2 separate regions of the Homo sapiens genome follow, and region 1 is linked to region 2. The links come from fine-mapping of genetic effects on gene expression. A gene starts in region 2. The other region holds a variant in brackets. All regions are shown on one strand. Distances are between the middles of the regions. Region 1 holds the start of LOC107986759 (a long non-coding RNA gene). Region 2 holds the start of BRAT1 (BRCA1 associated ATM activator 1).

Region 1 (4,376 bases), 46 kb before region 2:
CCTGAGCGAGGGAGCCAGCAGCTCAGCCGGCCCCGGGGCCTTTGCACCTGCCGTTTCCTGCCCCAGGATGGTGTCCCCAGGTACCCTCCATGTCTCGGCCCATGCACCTGCTTGTCTGTCCCTCCTCGGCTACCCAGGCTTGCCCGGCGTTCTCCACCCACTTCTCGCATGTTATCGCGGGACCCCCTCGCGGAGTTGTTTGCTGGCCCTCTCTCTCCCTGCCGGCCGCTGGGATGCTGTGAGTTCCGGAGGGCAAAGCTGGGTCTGTGTGGCTCCTGTCCCATCTCCAGTGTCCGACATCACAATGATATTTCCAGCTACAGGAAAGGGAGAGTTCGGTGGCTGCGCGGGGCTGGCCAGGGTGACCCTGAAGATTCTCCTGCCTGAATGGCCCATCCGTTTGCCCGATGCCGGCCTCCCTCTACCAAAGGCCTCAGCAGCAGCTGCCTCTCAGCCCCCAGCCTCTGCCCCATGCCTAGAGGAGTCACCAGGCCTGGCTCTTGGAGGACACACCCAGCCCAAATGCCCTCTGCTCCTAAAGCAAAGCTCAGTGGGGCCCAGAGTGGCCCTCCGGCAAGAAGCCCCAAGAGGATTTCAGGGCAGCCATAGTCACAAGTGCCCTGACCTGGGAGGGGCCCTCCTTGGGGTCTAGCCCCATCCTGCCAGAGCTGGCTGTGTGCCCCTAAGCAGACCCTACCTGTCTCTGGGAATATGTCCGCTGGGTCCAGGGAGCAAGTAGACAGCCTCCTTGCTCCACCTGCTCTGGAGACAGAGGCCACTGGGATGACAGCAGAAGTCACGGAAGGCTGCCTGGAGGAAGAGGCAGTCACATGTTAGGATGAATGCAAACACTGGGGAAGCTGACCCCACTTCTTGAAGCAAAACCTTCCTGATGGGGCCCAACCTCCTGTCCAAGGTTGCCGCCACTACGCTGGGCAGAAAACATGTGTTAGGGCCATGCCCCAGCCCGAGCGAGGCCTGGCCCTGGCCTCCCACCTTGGCCTGTTCGTCTTACCCCCATCAAGCAGGAGGCCAGCCCGACCCGCCTCCTCCTTCCGGAGTCTCCAGCTGTACAAGGGGAGGGAGCCATCTCGGGGCAGCCGGGTCGGGCTCTGGGTGTGTGCACACAGGGACACACGTGTCCCTGCACATGGCCAGCCCACATGTGCAGAGTGGCAGCGCGCCATGCTCCCCACGGGCTCACCCGTGCTTCCGCACACACGCGTGAAGCACGTAAGCACCGCACGATCACAGGCCCCTCTCGCGCTCCGAGGCATGTGCCGGCCGGCATGCATCCTGCCAGGGAATCTGCGTCTCTGTCGGTGACATACTCCGTTTCCTGCCACAGCCCTGGTATGCCCCAGGAGTAATTACTAACAGAGTTCCCTCCCAGCCTTGAAAGACGATATACTATGTGGTCACCTCTGTCTGGGCCACCAAGAGGATCCCAGCTGGGCTTTTGCTGAGCGGGGCACAAAAGCCATCAGGAGCCAGTCTTGGGGACTACAGCTGGGGGTCGGTGACCTTGATCAGGCCCAGGGAGGCTGAGAGGAGTCTCGCCCACGCTGCACCCACAGCCCCGCTCATTCCACACCTGAGTCTTCAGAGAAGGAAATGCAAGACCGTGCAGTTAGGACCTGGAATTGTCAGCCTGTCCCCATCCTGCCAGCGGGGATTGGCCTGTGGTTTTGTCAGCTGCCAGCCAGCGGCTGAGGACCAGCCCTGCAATCTGAGTGGGGGCCTGTGGGAGGATGCAGCTGAGGGGAGTGGCGAAGCTGAAGAAACTCTCGAGAAAGGTGGGAGGGGCCGGGGCAGTGTCAGGGCCGCTGTGCACATCCGTGCAGGTCGTGCACTGACTGGCAGCACACATCTGAGATCCAGCCCGTGCTCCGCTCATCGGGTTGTGAAGAAGCAGTACCTCTTTCCAAGCAGTGGCCCAGGCAGTAAGCGGAGCATCTGGCAGGCGGGGTCCACACTTCCCCAAGACCCTGTGCTGGCTGTGGCTGTATGTGCACACTTCTACATGACTTGCAGGGTGCCCAAACGGCCCGGAGGAGGCCGGGACCCCAGCCCCCAGGCCAGGGCTCCCGTGAGTAGGGAGACGCATCACTCTCTGGCCCCGGAGGCTGTGCTTCCCAGGCCATCACAATGGCCACACAACAGGGGCCCTCAGGGACGGAACCTAATCTTGAGCTATTGAAGACCTGAAAGCCGTGGCCCCTGGCCCGAGCCAGCAGACGCGCCTGCCGGCCCCACCAGAGACACCTGATCCACCGGTCGCCCCGCCACAAAGGGGGACACTGTCCCCCCAGGGCCGCCCGCCCCACCAACAGAGACAAGGAGGAAAACTGGGTCGCTGAGATAGAGTGACAGCCATGGCAGGTGGGGATGAGACAGGAGGGAGGGGCGGCCACCACTGGGCACAGCCCAGCCTCTGGGGATGCCCCAGGCCTGAAGATCTGCCCGAGGGGGGCTCAGAGCCCCGAGGAGGGCTCAAGTGACTGCCGGTTTGCAGGGAGTGGGGTGGAGGCTGGAGTGGGGGGCGCAGCTGAGACCAGAAAGAAACAGCTAGGACCCCACCTGAGGCTGGAGACACAGCCAGGACAGGGGACTCTCCACCCA[G/C]AGAGACGCCATAGGCCAGGTTGTTGGGGACAGGCCTGGACTGGTCCCCAGGCCCCACCCTGCTGAGGCAGGCCAGCCAGCTGCCCACCCCTTGGCCTGGGCATGTCCAGCTTTTGCTCAGTTTCCCAGCCTGGCAGGGCTTTCCGAGGGGTTGCAGGGAGAAGCAGGCCTGGCCAAAAGACCGCCATGCCTGAAGGTTCACCTTCACCCCCTGGCACCACCAAAGACCCCGCCCAGGGGAAGTCTTGGAGCCTCAGCGCCTCAGAACTTTGGGACTTCCTGGCATATGGGAGGCACCCGGAGGTGTGAGCCTGAGGGGTTCACTTTCAAGGGTGGCTGGAGACACCTGCTGCTGGCCATGTGGGCCTGGGAGGCCTTCTGGGGCCTCCATCTTCCCATCTGTGAAATGGGACTTGGACCTAGATGCTCTTCAAGGTCCCTTCTTCCAAGTCTTCTGGCAAGAGCCAAGTCCAGGAAGCTCAGCTCCATTGCGTCGGCATCTGGACTGAGTACTCTGTGGGTGCCGGGCTGTGCTGAGGGCTGGACGGGACCCAGGAACAGACAACAGGTAGAGTGGAGGAGGGAGCAGCGAGGAGACTTCCCACAGGGGTGGAGACGCTGAGCACTCCAGGCAGACACAGAGGGGCGGCTGGAGTGTGGGGATCCTGGGCCTGGCAGGGCCTGGGGGGTTCGGCAGGCAGAGTGGGCCAGGGGGTGGCCTGAGGACGCCAGGGGCAGAGCCAGCCCTCCCAACTGGGCAGTGGGGAGCCAAGGGAGGGTGGCAGAGCCGAGCCCCATCTCTAAGATATGGGGACAGCCCTCAGAGCCAGCTCCCACCCAGCTCCAGCTCAGGACAAGCAGTGGGCATGGAACTGAGATGCAGGAAGGCCGAGGTCTGGAGACGCACGTGGGCTCCCCGAGGTGACCTAGGGGTGGGCGGCCCTCAGCCCTGCCCGGAGATCCCTGGTCCTACTGAGTCAGCCACCGGGGAGAAGATAAGGGACCGCCAGGCTCTTAAGGGGCCTGACGTTGCTGTTGGGTGAAGTGCCCGCCCAGAATGACCTCAGAGGCTGCCGGGGCCACCTGGCATATCACCCTGCCCGTCTCCGCAGCTTCCTCTGGCAGTGGGTGGATGTATAATGTCCGCCCGCTGCCAGAGGGTTCACGGCACCACAGCCCTGCTGAGCCCTGCTGAGCCCCAGCTGGGTCCGACCTCCTGGGTACCCCAGGGACGGGGAGGCCAGGCACGGGGGTTGCTGTGCGGGTTGGACAGTGGTGATGGTGGACAGAGCCACTCCCAAGAGTGTTAGAGACCTGGGGTGGGGGCATCCAGGCAGACCACCCTCACCCCACCCTGTGGGACCCAAACCAGCTCACTTCCCTCTCTGGGCTCAGCTTCCTCATTTGCAAAATGAGGCCAAGAGTCACACCCGGCCCGGCCTGTGACCCCGGAGCCCCCTCCAGCCTCCTGCCTCACTCTGGCACCAGGCCTCCCTGCAGCTTGCAGAGCAAGCGGGGTACCGTCTCCCCGAGGTGCAGCCTGGGGGGCTGTGGCAGGTGATGGGAGCAGCTGTATTTGAGGGCAGGGTCTGTCGGGGAGCCCCCCAGCGTGGGGAGAGGAGGAGGGACCAGGGAGTGTAACCTGGCAGCCCGCAGCAGTTCCGGCTGCTGCTTCTGTCAATACGGCCTTCCTGTTTTGGAGATTAAACCCCGGCTGAGCAAACAGCTTTCCAGGCGGCCCCTCCCTCCACCCC
Region 2 (4,376 bases):
TGCAAGCTCTGCCTCCTGTGTTCACGCCATTCTCCTGCCCAGCCTCCCAAGTAACTGGGACTACAGGCGCCCACCACCACGTCTGGCTATTTTTTTTTTTTTTGTATTTTTAGTAGAGACGGGGTTTCACCATGTTAGCCAGGAGGGTCTTGATCTCCAGACCTCGTGATCTGCCTGCCTCGGTCTCCCAAAGTGCTGGGATTACAGGCTTGAGCCACCGCGCTCGACTGACACTATTTTTTTGAGACAGAGTCCATTCTGTCGCTGGAGTGCAGTGGCACGATCTGGGCTCACTGCAACCTCCGCTTCCTGGGTTCAAGCGATCCTCCCCCTCAGTCTCCCAAGTAGCTGGGATTACGGCGCATGCCACCATGCCCGGCTAATTTTTTTATTTTTAGTAGAGACGAGGTCTCACCATGTTGGCCAGGCTGGTTTCGAACTCCTGACTTCAAGTGACCTACCCGCCTTGGCCTCCCAAAGTGATGGGATTACAAGCATGAGTCACCGCGCCTGACCTATGACACTACTTAAAATGATGAAAAATGAGAAATATAAACATCTGACAGTGGAGTGATTCAATTAATTATGGTCTATTCCTACAGCAAATAACATGTAGTCAATAACATTAACATATTATGTGGAGAAAACACTCACTATGATAGCAAGAGAGAAAGCAAGACACCAAAATTGTGTTTACAGTATGACCTCATTTTTTTTTCCCCAGAAAAATACAGCTTTATGTGTTATGAAAAGGCTGGGAGTAAATTAAAACGTTGATGGTTTAATTTTCCTCTTTACTCTTTTGTTCATGTTTTAAAGAACATGTATTACTTTGTTTTTTTTTTTTGAGACAGGGTCTCACTCTATCACCCAGGTCAGGGTGCAGTGGCACAATCATAGCTCACTGCAACCTCTACCTCCCGGACTCAAAGGATCCTCCCATCTCAGCCTCCAGAGTAGCTGGGACTACAGGTGCGCCACCAGGCACAGCTAATTTTTGTTTTTTTTTTTTTTAGAGATGACGTCTCGCTATGTTGGACCAGGCTGGTCTTGAACTCCTGGACTTAAGCAATCCGCTCGCCTCAGCCTCCCAAAGTGCTGGGATTACAGGTATGAGCCACTGCATCCGGCCCCTACTTTCATAATCAGAAAGAAAACAAATCTGATGTCTTAAACACACTAAATACAACGAGAACAACAATAAAACAAGTTTGTTCACGCCTTCTGTAGAACTGAACCTTGGGGTGCCCTGATCGTGGCTCAACTGGCTGAATTTCAGGCTCTAACTCTCCAGATCATTCTCTCGGGCTTCATCTTAACTTGCCCTCAGTCTGCCACAGATAATCCTTAGGAAGTGAAGGAAAGACATCTGATTGGCAGTTTCTGCCCTTCCTCCAGGACAGGGGAGTCCCCATCTGGCCCCTGCTCCCTGTCCCAGCCTCTGCGTCTGGTCTCTGGATAGGCAGTAAACAGCAGCACCACCTCCTTACCTCCTTCAGTGACCGTTTTAAACCAGTCCAGGAGCTTCTCCAAACAGGTGTCATCTGCCACCGGCTGCCTGGGATCTACCAGAACAGCACAGAGAGCCGGGAGCAGCTGGGCGCATTCTGGGTCCATGGTGAGGCCGCAGGCCCTGCAAAGGCAATGTGAGAGCCAAACCTCAATGCCCACTCCAGACCCAGCTCGCTCTAGTCACAGCAGCCCACCATGCCTGCTCAGGCCTGGGAAGGGGCCCCAGAACTTTCATCTCAGACCAGGAGAACCATGATCCCCAGACCAGAGGTCTGTACTGCAGGGATGGATGCAAAGCTTTGGTCTAGGTGGGGCCCTGAGCGCTGGTGGCGGGGCTGAAAGGGGCAGATGAGGGTCTAGCTGAAACCACAAGGCCTCCGGAACTCAAAGTCTGTCACCCTTGGTCTTTGGTGCAGTCGGGGCAACAGCGTGGTGCTGGCCCAGGCTGCAGGTGGGCCAGAGTCAGGGGCATCTTTGAGTTCCGGGGTCAGCCATGTGTGCAAGGGGATGTCTACCCATGCCCCAGGGCCAGCCTGGGCTGGAAAGTTTCTGTCCCTCCCAGCGTCAAGTGGTGGCTGCATTTGACGTCCTGAAGCCAGCAGGGGGGTGCGGAGGGGAAGGGGCGCCTGTCCGTGTGTCTGTCCCTCTCAGGGTCAGTGGTGGCTGCATTTGCTGTTCTGCAGCCAGTAGGAGGGTGAGGAGGGGAAGGGGCACCTGTCCGTGTGTCTGTCCCTCCCAGGATTAGTGGTGGCTGCATCTGAAGCCGGCGGGGGGGAGAGGGGGGCGGCGGGGTGCGGAAAGGAAGGGGCGCCTGTCTCTCCCAGGACCAGGTGTGCATCCGTGCGTCCAGCCTCGGGGGTGGGCGGGGTGGTCAGCGGCTCTGTCTAACCGGGGCACCGTCTGCCAATGCCCGGGAAGGCTGCGTCCCGGGAAGAGGAACCCTCCCCACACTTTGAAGTCAGTTTTGGCCGCGAGCGCCAGGCCCGAGAGTCCAGAAGGGGCGCCAGAGCAGGCGGCCACAGTCGGGCTGGGAAGCGAGCCCAGGTCGCGCACGCCCCGGGCTGGGCTGCTCCCTGGCCCGCCCGCCCCCCTCGGCCGGGTCTTGGCCTCCCCGCGCCCCACTACCACGACCTCGACCCCCGAAGGCCCACGCGCCTCACCGCTCGGTTGCGTCCTCCGCCGCAACCACCCCTCGCCCAAGGCTCCGCCTCCGGACAGTGCCACCTGCCAGGCCCGGAGGAGGCGGAGGACGGAGACGGCTGGCGTGGGGAACTGAGACTGCACCCCTGGAGGCCGCTCTGGAAGCCTCGAGGGCCCAGACTTGAAGGAAGGAGTTCAAGCTGAGAGGGGCTGGGGACAGGCAGGCGCCAAGCCGGTCGCTCCGACAGATCACCCCCGCCAGGCGCCTAGTGGTTCATGCCGAGCATCCGGTGGGTGGGCGGGGCGTCTCGAGGGCGGGGATCTCTGAGGAAGGCGCGGGGTTGTGTCCGGAGGGGCGGGGCTTCGCCTGCAGGGCGCCCAGTGTCTGCACCGGCGGGAGCGAGAAAACTATGTGCCGGAGAGAAGCGTCCTGATCCGTGCACCAAAGCCCTTGGTCATTTAGCTTCAGGTTCTCAAATTAAGTCCTCCGCGGCCGCGCTGTGGCTCATGCCTGTAATTCCAGCCCTTTAGGAGGCGCAGTTGGGAGGATTGCTTGAAGCCAGGAGTTGAGACCAGCCTAGGCAACAAAGCGAGACCCCATCTCTTAAAATTTAAAAAAAAAAAAAAAAAAAAAAAAAAAGGCCAGGCGTGGTGGCTCACGCCTGTAATCCCAGCGCTCTGGGAGGCCCAGGCGGGCGGATCACGAGGTCAGGAGTTCGAGACCAGCCTGGCCAACATGGCGAAATCCCGTCTCGTCTCTAATTTTTGTATCTCTAAGATATCAAAATTAGCCGGACGTGGAGGCGCGCGCCTGTAATCCCAAGTACTCGGGAGACTGAGGCAGGAGAATCTCTTGAACCTGGGAGGCGGAAGTTGCAGTGAGCCAAGATGGTGCCACTGCACTCCAGCCTGGGCTACAGGGCGAGACTCCGTCTCAAAAAAAAAAAAAGAAAATCAGCCAGACCTGGTAGCATGCGCCTGTGGTCCCAGCTACTCCAGAGGCTGAGGCGGGAGGATCGCTTGAGCCCAGAAGTTCAAGGCTGCAGTGAGCTATGATCCTGCCCCGGCACTCCAGCCTGGGCAACAGAGCAAGACCCTGTGTTTTAAGAAAGCAAACAGGCAGAAAAACTAGGTCCAAAAAATTGAGTTCAAAACACTAACTGTGTGTTCGAGAGTCTCAAAGCCAGTGGATAGACAAGGCTCATGTTCCCAAAGCATTGTTTTATAGCAAGATTGTTGGGAGCCAACACCAGATTTAGGAAACAAAGCAGAATTCCTATGGATATTAAAATTTAAAAATTTAAAAGCACTGACTTTGCTGGGTCACCTTTATTTTATTTATTTATTTATGGAGACGGAGTGTCACTCTTTTTGCCCAGACTGGAGTGCAATGGCTCAATCTTGACTCACTGCAACCTCCACCTCCTGGGTTCAAGCGATTCTCCTGCCTCAGCCTCCCGAGTAGCTGGGATTACAGGTGCGGGCCACCACGCCCAGCTAATTTTGTATTTTTAGTAGAGACGGGGTTTCACCATGTTGGCCAGGCTGGTCTCGAACTCCTGACTTTAGGTGATCCGCCCACCTAGGCCTCCCAAAGTGCTGGGACTACCAGCGTGAGCCAACGCGCCCAGCCGTGCTGGGTAACCTTGGAAAAGCAACTTCCCTGACGCTTGCATGCCCCCTGCACACACACACACACGTACATCCTTAGAACTACATGTGTG

The links. PIP is the estimated chance that this variant, and not a neighbour inherited with it, causes the effect. A credible set is the group of variants that fine-mapping cannot tell apart.
Region 1: its variant is the best candidate, but not a certain one, in a credible set for the expression of BRAT1 in whole blood (INTERVAL, PIP 0.57).

Annotation. Positions count from the first base shown.
Region 1 is chr7:2,507,308-2,511,683 of GRCh38, forward strand. It overlaps LOC107986759 (a long non-coding RNA gene), which reads right to left and starts at 1,764. Exons shown (of 3, transcript XR_001745066.2): 1 at 1,423-1,764; 2 at 698-810; 3 at 1-317. RefSeq lists enhancers at 454-1,309, 656-1,183 and silencers at 829-982, 4,077-4,126. The variant G/C (reference allele first, on the strand shown) is at 2,623.
Region 2 is chr7:2,552,815-2,557,190 of GRCh38, forward strand. BRAT1 (BRCA1 associated ATM activator 1) reads right to left here and starts at 2,710. Exons shown (of 14, transcript NM_152743.4): 1 at 2,673-2,710; 2 at 1,491-1,633. The coding sequence starts at 1,617. RefSeq lists a silencer at 2,465-2,704 and an enhancer at 2,617-3,294.